Homo sapiens: one gene and its partners. The protein of the gene in region 1 interacts with the protein of each later gene in a pairwise test. Each region holds a gene or a part of one and is shown in the gene's direction. Other genes may lie near its edges.

Region 1 (3,500 bases):
ATCACCGAAATCCAGGAGGGAAACAATCACCTCAGTGGAATGTGAATCCCAGCATAGCTCTCCCGCCTCCCAGCTGAATCAGTTCTAGGCCCTGTACCGAGTCAGCTTGGGCCTTCCTGGGTTTGGCCACAGAGTAGGTTTGGGGATTTTCCATGGTTACCGATCACGAGTCCTGGAAGGGGACAAGCAGGGCTGTTTCAGGACCTGTGCACTCATTCACCATCCACCCATTTGTCCACCCGTCTATGAATCCATTGAATGTAGTCCGAGACCTGGCTCTGTGCCAGTTCACACCTAGAATGAGATCCAGCCCCTGCCTCCGGGAGCTCAGGGCCTGGTTGGGGACTCAGGCAAGGAAGCCTCTGTCACACATGGGTCTGGGCAGGGCTTATGGCTGACCCATTCATTCATTTACTCACTCACTCAATCAAAGAAGGTAATTCTTCAGTCCCGTTTATATCCTGGGCACCGTGTGGTGCCGGCGGTATGATGAATACCCTCTCTGCCTTCATGTTGCTCTAGCGCAAAGTGCAAAGTGGGGTGCTAGTGGCCCGGTTTTGGGGAATCAGTTTGGGTGATTTGGGCTGAGTCACTTCACTTGACTGAGGATCAGTGTCCTTGTCTGGGATCATCTAAGCTTCCTAGCGGGGCTGTTGTGAGACCCAGAGATGAAGGAAGGCCCGCTTCTGTCCACACCTGGCCTCTGATGCCCTCATTCCCCGCAGGAGGCTGTCTCTCCTTCTATTCCCGATGCCCAGCCCCATGGCTGGCCCCCAGCGGGGTCACAGCCCCCAGATTAGCCACTCCATTGTAATAACAATCTCCCTTTCCTTCTTGTCTTTTTTCCCAGGCCTGCCAACCACAGGTACGTGGTTCAGGGGGCTCCGGGGCTCTGGGGCTCTGGGGCTCTGGGGCTCTGGTGCCATGTGATTCTGGATATGGGGCTGGGGCCTGGGCGCCTGGTGCTTCTACCCTGGCGAGGGATCCCTGCTCTGCCTGGCTTGGTTTTGGTCTGAGGTCTTGCGCTGGGGCTGCGTGAAGCCTGGCTGAGCTGGTGTGGAGGAGCAATGCCCTGGGCCAGCCCTGGGGCAGGGTGGCTGCAGCCTCTCCAGGGCCTTGTCCTCTCTGTTCCAACAGGGGCCAGCTGGAGATCAGCAGCCTGGTGCCCCTGGGGCCCAAGTATGTGGTGAAGTGGAACACGGCGCTGCCCCAGGTGCAGGTGGTGGAGGTGGGCCAGGACGGTGGCACCTATGACAAGGACAATGTGCTCATCCAGCACTCAGGCGCCAAGAAGGCCTCTGCCTCAGGGCAGGCTCAGAGTGAGTACCCCCTCTCTGTGCCCTGCGTTCGTCACCCTCGCCCTCACCAGCCACAGCCTGGGCTGCTCCTACCCAGGCTTGGCCCTGTCTTGGGGACCCCTACATAGGCTGATGGGTGGCTTGGCCAGGAAGCTCTTGCTGGTTTTGCAGCCCCACCCTGGACCTTAATGCAGAGCCATGGCCTCACCTGGGTGTGCGCAGGTGCATCTCCCAATCCACACACTTTGCTCCACCTTCACATTGGCTGCCACACACTCTGTCCTGCTGTGCCAGCTACCTGGCTGCTCTTCCTCCCTCCTCCTACCTGGGCCCCCTCCCTGTCCATCCTCTGCCCATCCCCAGGGCTGATTCTTCCAAATGCAGGTCAGATCAGTGCACGTCATCCCGCCCCAGTGGCTTCCCATTGCCGGTCCTGAGGGTGTACCACCTGCCTCACTCACCTCCCTCTGCCCCTTCTCTCTGCTGCAGCCATGCCAGCCCCTCTGGGCTCCTGGATGGGCCATGCTCCCTCCCACCACGCCCTCTCCAGCCTGTGCCTTTTGCCAAGTACTCTCCTGCCATCCTGTTTTTGTCTCATCTGCTCTTGGCTCAAATGGCACTTCCTCAGAGAAGCCTTTTCTTATGCCCTCATGCTGGGCCAGGTCGCCCCTCCTGTGCTCTCGAGACCTCTGGTACATTTTCCCCTTTATGGGTGATTGATCGGTTGATGTCTCTCCTCTCAGCCTGGCTGCAGCTCTGTCCAGGAGCCTAGGGTACGGTGGGCATTAATAAGTGTTCCTTGAATGCATGCAGGATGCTAAATTGCAGCAGAAAGGAACCCTGGTGCCCGAGGCATCTTCTGTGGGTGAGAAAGGCACTGGGGTTTCACTTCCCCCTCTGTCTGCTGTCTGACCCAGGAGGCTGCCTCATGGGCCACCCACAATTCTGGAAATTCTGAGGGAGTGATTGCACCACCTACTCTTGCCGTCTGGGTGCTGGTCCGTGACAGCTGTGCCCACTTCCAGATGCTGTCTCTTTCCTCAGCTCTGCTGGGTAGGAAGAGTCCTCTGCCCCACGTGCCTTCCTCGGAGGCACCTTCTGCCCTGGCTCAACTGCACTCCCTCCCCGCCGCTTGGGGCACAGGGTTCCTTTCTGCTGGTCATGCGGTCTAGCATCCTTCATGCACTCCAGGGACGCTTAGGGGATCCCTCCTTCGGTGACAATGATGTGTCTGTGGCCGCATTCCTCAAACCAGAGTCACGTACTGCCAGACCCCTTCGAAAGGGGAAAGAAGTTCTTGTGGAACCCTTCATTATATTGTTATTCAAATATATACAAACGCAAAACTCCCTGTAATCAACTCCTTCTGCTTATAGCCCTTGAAGAACCATAAAACCAACACCAAATCACAAATTGAATAAAAATAAAGCTACAAAACCATAACATTCAAATTAACAGCATTAATGTAATGTGATGGATGATGTTGTTTTGCTGAAACCAATTTGTTCACAGTGTGGATGTGGCTCAGGCCCTGGTAGAGCAGGTTCCTCTGCGCTTTCGTGCCTGTGCCACAGGGTGCCCTGTGGGGATCTGCATTTCCCATGAGCTCCCCAGTTTGGGTCACTGCAGAGCCCCTCTGATGTGAGCACATTGTCCACATCCCAAGCTCGCCATGCTCTTTGCTTGTTACCAGGTGACCATTCAGGTGCCATAGTCCATGGAAGCCTTGATATCAGGCAGCAGAGTGTGGCTTTAAACTCATTCCACACAGGTGACTCAGATAATTATCTAAATGAAAACCCCAAATAAGGCTTCCCCTCCACTCCCCTGGGGCTTCATAAGACCTCAGTGTGCAAAACCACGGCCTAGAGAATACAGTCCAAATTCCTAGCCCAGGGGCCTAGCGTTCAAGGCCTTCCCCATCTGGTCCTCCTGGACCCTCCTGCTCTATCTCTACCTGCCACCCCCTACCCCCATCTCACCCTTACTCCATCTGTATCATCACTGGTGATCTGGGCCCCCTCACCCCATCACTGTCCCACCACACTGATATCTTTCTCCCCACCACCTCCTACCACCCACCATTGTTAACTGACTGCTTCCTCCGCCACTTGTCCTGCCAAGGTCATAAGCTCCGGAAGAATGAGGACCCTGTCTGTCTTGTGTACTGCTGTCTCCAGTCTCTAGCATGGAGTCTGGCAC
Region 2 (3,500 bases), on another chromosome or scaffold:
TCTTCCAATCAAATTATCCAGTTTGGAGAAATTAGGAACTATCATAGTAAATTACATGGCTTTGGTTTCAATTAGCACTGTAAAGTAATAAAGTTTCCCAAATAACAGAGATTATGATTGATGACAATGCCATTTTCCTCTTAATTGGGAAAGCTGATGGCGACACTCATGAAATTAAAAAGGTCTTGATGAAAGACCAAGGAAGACGTAGATTTCCCTAAATTCTGAATAACTCTGATTTAATTCTACAGGTATGTAACAGAATTTGTAAACCTAGGCAATGTTTCAGCTCTTCGAACTTTCAGAGTCTTGAGAGCTTTGAAAACTATTTCTGTAATTCCAGGTAAGAAGAAAATGGTATAAGGTGGTAGGCCCCTTATATCTCCAACTGTTTCTTGTGTTCTGTCATTGTGTTTGTGTGTGAACCCCCTATTACAGATATGTGACAGAGTTTGTGGACCTGGGCAATGTCTCAGCGTTGAGAACATTCAGAGTTCTCCGAGCATTGAAAACAATTTCAGTCATTCCAGGTGAGAGCTAGGTTAAACACCGAGGCTGACTTTAGCTACAGTGGTGCTACAATCACAGCTTTTGTGCAGAAGCCTTGTTGCTAGTTGCATATTGCAAATAAATATGTAAAAAAGCAAGAATTGGTACATCATTTTTTGGATGGATTTGATTCTTTGCTTTTTACTCGTTGCTTTCTTTAAAACTATTCTAAATCAGCCTTTGAGTTTAACAAGTGTTGCATGAGGCATTTGCAGTAACAGGCTACATGGTTTGCATCCTATAACATCAAGCTTTCCGCATAGAAGCTAGACTAAGAGACATTCAGACTGATGCAAATTTGACAGTTTAGGCCTAAAACTGGCAATCTTTTAAGCTGCAGATAAATGAAAGAGCAAGGGATAGCATGAGTGCTGCATGGGGCTCAGATTTCAGATGTCTTCCTTTTTTTAACCCATACTCAAGCTTGCAGAATTCACAAATATATAACCTCATAATTCATCGACTTCAAGATTTCTTACTACTCTATTCACATAGACTTTTCTAAAACCAATAAGGGGTTAGGGAGTAAGACATCTGCAAATAAAAGCAAAATATTTACACAAGGTTGATGTTTAAGCATGAATAACAAAATCATTCTTTTGCTCTAAAGAGTGTTTGGAAATACACATTTGGTTCATTTCCATTCACAGTTTTCTAATGAACATACAAGTTCTGCTTTCATTCATTTTCACCAGCTAGCAGGCTTTTCATGAAAATGTTATTCAATCACAAACATTAAACTAATATTGTTGGCATTCTGCATGACATTTTTATTTTCCAGGACAAGCTCATGATATTTTTGCCGGTAAAATAGCTGTTGAGTAGTATATTTAAATTCCCCCTTCTGATTTTGTTTGTAGGCCTGAAGACCATTGTGGGGGCCCTGATCCAGTCAGTGAAGAAGCTTTCTGATGTCATGATCTTGACTGTGTTCTGTCTAAGCGTGTTTGCGCTAATAGGATTGCAGTTGTTCATGGGCAACCTACGAAATAAATGTTTGCAATGGCCTCCAGATAATTCTTCCTTTGAAATAAATATCACTTCCTTCTTTAACAATTCATTGGATGGGAATGGTACTACTTTCAATAGGACAGTGAGCATATTTAACTGGGATGAATATATTGAGGATAAAAGTAAGATATACTCTATAAACCATTAAGTTGTTTAGTTCTCTAAATATTAAATATTATATATAATGGAAATTATCTCAATTTAGATGTGAATCAAGTGACTTAGACTAATTTAAGATGATTTAATACATATAAAAGAGATATCAAATGATACCTTATTCTATTTTTCTTATCTGTCCATTGATATAGTAAAAGTTCTCATTTGAAAATGTGTTGTCTTATACTCATGTTGAAAGTAATTTCATATTATGCCATATTAAAAAATGTTTATTTGGTAGACATTAATCAGGTTTTTCAGTCATTTTAATAAATAAGTCAGTAGTTTGAACTATTCAGTGTATTCCACTGAAATGTGTTAAGAAGACTGAGGGGAAATAATTTGGCCCTATTTGGTTGATGCAACATATGTATTGAGTACATATGCTATATCTGAAAATAGAGAAACCATTTATCAAGATGAAATAAGAATTTGTGTGCTCCTCAGAAGGTTAAGTAACCCTGATTTAGCCATTCACTTATTCATATTCTAATTAGTCCCTTTAGTGTCATCATTGTATTGTAGTTACCAGTTTAGTTTGATTATATTTAAGGTATGAACATCAGAATAAGCTTATGCCATATACTTCAGCATGATTTCTTAACATTGAGCCCAGCCCCTCTGTCATTTTTCATATGTGTGTGCATGTTTGTATGTGAATATAAAAATACGTATGTTTGCATGTGTGTGCATGTTTTCTGAGATCATCTTTGCAACTTACTGAAGTTATATGTCATGCCTTAAAAATAAAAACTAGATAGCTCTCCATAGCTTAAAAATAAAAACTAGATATACTCAGACAACATATCTCTCCAAAGAAACAAGTTTATTTTCTTCATTTGAAAGGCAGAAATCAAGCAAAAATTTCAAACAAAACACTTATTTACAGTATCATAAGAGGGAATAAATACCTAATCCCACTTCTCACAGGAAATTAAGTTAAAATTGGCGGGAAAAAATGTCTGAATCTATTTTGAGCCTGGGGAGAAAAGTATATGTAAGGTAAAATTTATTTGCATGAAAACACCTAGAAACAACAAGGCTTTCTTCTTTCTTACTTTTTGTGCCCAGCAATAGACTGGCAGCTCTTTCTTAATGTATCCCATGCAATTTGAGCTTATATTTGCAATGAATGCTGATATAAGAATGTTATCATAGTAATTCCTTCTGAACATTTTTCTTTTTAACATAGATTTGCTAACCATTTGTATAATCAAAAATGTTATATATTGATATTTGTTCAATATTGTGAAAAATCTCTTTAGCCATATATATTTATTAGTTTATCCATCTCATTATGATTGAAAACATTTGTGAGCTTTGCCACCTAAACAGGGTGGCTGAAGTGTTTTACAGGATTTTAATGATTCTTTCTATTCCTTTCTCTTTAAATAGGTCACTTTTATTTTTTAGAGGGGCAAAATGATGCTCTGCTTTGTGGCAACAGCTCAGATGCAGGGTAAGTGATGCTTCCTACTGAGTTTCAGTCCACACTGCTCCATCAGTGTCAATAACCTGCCACCTCCCACTCATCCAGTCCCACTCACTCCTCACTCAAAACCCTCCATAAATTCTACTTCACGGTGACTCTCAGAATAGCCAGGATAAGTGTAGATTCTCACCTCTTTCACACAGTCATTTACTGCAATTATTTTTCTATGCTAGGTCACATCTAATCTTCCAAATTAGTTCAATGTAAAATAGAGAATAAAGCAGTATAATATGCATCTGAAGCTTAATAGAATTCTTAAGCACATACTTTTTATAAGTGTCATATTTTATAT
Region 3 (3,934 bases), about 130 Mb from region 1:
CATGTTTTCCTTTTAACAGGAGAGAAAAGTGAGGAGCAGTGATTACCGCCACAGAAATATCCTTTCATGGCGTGTCCTCCGGCATGGTCTACTCAGTGTGGTGGAGCCACTGCAGGTCCCTCCTCCAGGGATGTAGGAATGCCAGTGAAGGCCTTCCTGAGTTGGGAGAGAGGCAGAGGAGTGAGTGGAGGCAGGGCTGTAGCTTCTGTGCCCCGCCCCTACCCAGGCTCTCCAGGGAGGCAGGAAAGAGGCTGTGTTTAGACCTGAGGGAGCCAGCTGTGAGGCTGGAGCAGTTGCTGCATGGCGGGGCGGGGGCTCCACAGGGCTGTTCACCTGCTGCTCTGTGCAGAGACAGCCTCAAGTCCAGCTGCTGGGGTTGCATCACCTGCAGCTAAAACAGCCACAGGGCCCAGGCTGCCAAAAGGCAACAGAAGCAATCTAAGAAACCAGGCAAGGGAGCCTCCCCCATCTCCCTGTTGCCTTTTGGGAGCATAGAGCTTCCCTCTGAAGGTAACACCCTTTGCATTTTTCTCTCTTGACTCTGTTCATCAACTTCCACTCCCAAATACTTGTGCCCTTCCTTCTCCACAGATATACACAATCCCTGGGCACTCTCCACCTAGGTCAGCTGGCTCTAGTAAGGCAGCAGTCAAGGGAGTTTCTGGGCTGGGACCCCCTCTGGGGTGCAGGCTGGGGTGCCCTGCTGGTATGTGCCCCAACAGGTTTTTCCCTATCAGCCTTGAAATCAGCCTGCAGCCTGTCTGACCTGCCCCCCAGGGAGCTGGAGCCAGAGGCAGAGCCAGGTCAGAAGCTGGGGCAGAGCCAGGTCAGAAGCTGGACTTTGAGACTAGGTCTCTGTGGTCCCACCTGGACCCACAGGGAAGGCAGTGCATAAAAGCCTCCTGTGTTTGAGGCTGAGCCGCTGAGAGGCTGAGTGGAGTTCACTCACATGGATTGAGGCCCAGTTCCTGGGAGAAGAGATGCTGGGCAGGAAGGTGTCTGCATGTGGGACTCTGTACAGCCCGGTCCTCTCCCACGTCTGGGAGGGGCCAGAGTCAGACAACTGCTGGGTTCGTCCCTAAGAGAGGTCATCTGACTGGCTGTTCAGCCTAGGCTGCACACACCCCCACTTTCCTCTACCAGGCCACACCGGAGGCAGTGCTCACACAGGCAAGCTACCAGGCCACAACAACGACACCCACCTCACCTCTGGCACCTCTGAGTAAGTACTGGGCCCACGGCCCCATGCCAGGAGGGCTTGTTGATTGCTTGGGGGAGGGAAAAATGAGTTTTCCTTTTCCAACATGAGAGTGCCTCCTTTCTGTCCAGGCATCCACGTACTTGCAAGAACTCTTGCTCACATCAGCTAAGAGATTGCACCTGCTGACCTAGAGATTCCGGCCTGTGCTCCTGTGCTGCTGAGCAGGTAGGCAGCTGTACAGGCAGGAATTGAGGGTTGCTTGTCAGCTGGGGCTGCCGGTGGGGGAAGATGCTATTTCGAGTTGTCTTCCACTCTGCGTGGTTAATCCTGCCACCTCACCTCAGCTCCCCTGCACTGCCCAGGAGACCCCAGCCAGGCCCAGGAAGGAGGGCCATAGACCTCAGAAGGGAGGCATCTACCGCGGACCAAGGCCTGAGGAGCTTTGGTGCTGACCCTGGCATCAGGGAGGGTTGGCGCCTGGTCCAGGAGCATTCCGCATCAATCCCCACTTCCTAAAGGAGTGGGGAGAGGTGGGGAAGGTGGGGGCTCCCCTCTTACCTCACCATTTCAGCTCCATTTCTGGCTCCAAGCCTAAGCAGGTTGATCTTTTTTTCTGCAGCAAGGAAAGGAACAGGTGACTGGAACCCAGGGTCCAGGGTCTCGGGGGGGTCATAAGGAGTCCCTGAAGGGCCAGGAAATTCAGCTCTGTGGGCTCCTGTTTCCTTCCCCAGGGCAACCAGTAGCACCATGTCTGTGACTGGCGGGAAGATGGCACCGTCCCTCACCCAGGAGATCCTCAGCCACCTGGGCCTGGCCAGCAAGGTAGGGGCTGTTGGGATTTTAGAGATCACTTTTAGTATCTCAGCTCGGGCTGTGAGAGGATGGGAGGCAGGAAAGTGGAGGACAGGCCCTGAGGTTATGCTGAGGAGGTGTAGGCAGCCTGGCCCTGGCCCTTGCCAACTACCCTGTGCTCCCACAGACTGCAGCGTGGGGGACCCTGGGCACCCTCAGGACCTTCTTGAACTTCAGCGTGGACAAGGATGCGCAGAGGCTACTGAGGGCCATTACTGGCCAAGGTGAGCCCCTTTCCCCCGGCACTTGAGACTGCCTTTTAGAGCCAATCTGTAGACCAAGGAGGAGCCAGGAAGGAGGAACTAGTGATGTTGGAGAAATGTTTGTGGAATGCCTTCATTCTTGTATGTCAGGCGCCACAGTAGGTGTGTCAAACCCATTCTCACAACACCCCTGTGAGGCAAGGCTTATTATTTCCATTTTCCAGATGAGGAAACTGGGGCTCAGGGAGATTAAGAGGCTTGCCCAAGGTCACTCAGCTCATGACGGAGGTGGTATTCTCATCTAGGTCAGCCGATCCCCCCAAGTCGTATTTTTTTTTAACCACCACACCAGGCCACCTTTGCCTTGGTCTGGGTCAGATTTGCATGCTGTTTTGACATTTTATTTGCAACTTCTTTTGAGATAAAATGGAAGTGGGGGTGATATAGCCCCTGCTCCTTTCCTTCCCAGCCCTCTCCTGGAGCGCCTTCCCTCCTCCAAGGAGTAGGAACATCCCACTATGTAAAGACCCTGCTCACAGCACAGCCCTCATCTCGGTTCAGGCGTGGACCGCAGTGCCATTGTGGACGTGCTGACCAACCGGAGCAGAGAGCAAAGGCAGCTCATCTCACGAAACTTCCAGGAGCGCACCCAACAGGTGAGGCCATGCTGACCTCCCACAGCAGTGGACTGGGGTGAGAAACCCCCTGGAGGACTCGAGAGACAGCAACAGCCGCTGAGGCCAGCCCCTGCTTCCTGGCTAAACAGGGCCTGAGATGAAAACCAGCCAAATCTTCCCAAACCTCCCCACACTTCTGGGGCCCTTCCCCTCACCCCCGTCCCTCTGCTGTGAGGACCATTTATTGTAGGACCTGATGAAGTCTCTACAGGCAGCACTTTCCGGCAACCTGGAGAGGATTGTGATGGCTCTGCTGCAGCCCACAGCCCAGTTTGACGCCCAGGAATTGAGGACAGCTCTGAAGGTAGCAGGAGGGGAGACTTGCTGGGGTGTCTGGGGAAGGGAGAAGGCTGTCAGCCTTGCTTTTGCAAGACGAGAGTCCCCCTCTCGTCGTCCCATATTGTTTCTTAGAAGGAGAAGCAGCCAGCGTCTGCCCCTCTGTCTGCCATCCTAATGACACGGCCAGTCTGAGAGTAGACTCCCAATTTCTTGTAGGCCTCAGATTCTGCTGTGGACGTGGCCATTGAAATTCTTGCCACTCGAACCCCACCCCAGCTGCAGGAGTGCCTGGCAGTCTACAAACACAGTAAGAATATAGAGGGAGGGGTCCCAGATGCTGGAGAAGGGGCTGTAGGACAGGCCACTCCTCTCCTGTACTCCCCATAGGTGAGCTATCTGGCAACCTGGCTGCCTAAGTTCTATTCCCTTGGGGTCTTTCCTCTTGCCCCCACCAGTGCCTCAGTCTCTCAGGGGAGAGACCCAGATGTGATCATTAAAAAAAGAGAAGCAGGCCAGGTACGGTGACTCATGCCTGTCACCCCAACACTTTGGGAGGCTGAGGTGGGCAGGTCACTTGAGCCCAGGAGTTCAAGACCAGTCACAGGCAATAAAGGAAAACCTCATCTGTGCTAAAAATTCAAAAAAACCAGCTGGTCATGGTGGTGTGCGCCTGTGGTCCCAGCTACTCAGGAGTTTGAGGTGGGAGGATCACCCCAGCTTGG

The links. The genes of interacting proteins can lie anywhere in the genome.
Region 2: the proteins of ARHGEF10L (region 1) and SCN2A interact in a two-hybrid assay, tested with the Homo sapiens proteins (one large-scale study listed by IntAct).
Region 3: the proteins of ARHGEF10L (region 1) and ANXA9 interact in a two-hybrid assay, tested with the Homo sapiens proteins (one large-scale study listed by IntAct).

The regions. Positions count from the first base shown.
Region 1 is NC_000001.11:17,633,698-17,637,197, forward strand, and holds part of ARHGEF10L (rho guanine nucleotide exchange factor 10-like protein), read left to right. Parts: intron 1-850; coding exon 851-865; intron 866-1,137; coding exon 1,138-1,319; intron 1,320-3,500.
Region 2 is NC_000002.12:165,308,914-165,312,413, forward strand, and holds part of SCN2A (sodium channel protein type 2 subunit alpha), read left to right. Parts: intron 1-251; coding exon of another isoform or gene 252-343; intron 344-438; coding exon 439-530; intron 531-1,409; coding exon 1,410-1,682; intron 1,683-3,111; coding exon 3,112-3,175; intron 3,176-3,500. UniProt on the Homo sapiens protein: Mediates the voltage-dependent sodium ion permeability of excitable membranes.
Region 3 is NC_000001.11:150,981,158-150,985,091, forward strand, and holds the start of ANXA9 (annexin A9), read left to right. Parts: upstream 1-1,134; 5' UTR 1,135-1,222; intron 1,223-1,329; 5' UTR 1,330-1,426; intron 1,427-1,932; 5' UTR 1,933-1,948; coding exon 1,949-2,023; intron 2,024-2,180; coding exon 2,181-2,277; intron 2,278-2,817; coding exon 2,818-2,912; intron 2,913-3,123; coding exon 3,124-3,237; intron 3,238-3,428; coding exon 3,429-3,519; intron 3,520-3,934. UniProt on the Homo sapiens protein: Low affinity receptor for acetylcholine known to be targeted by disease-causing pemphigus vulgaris antibodies in keratinocytes.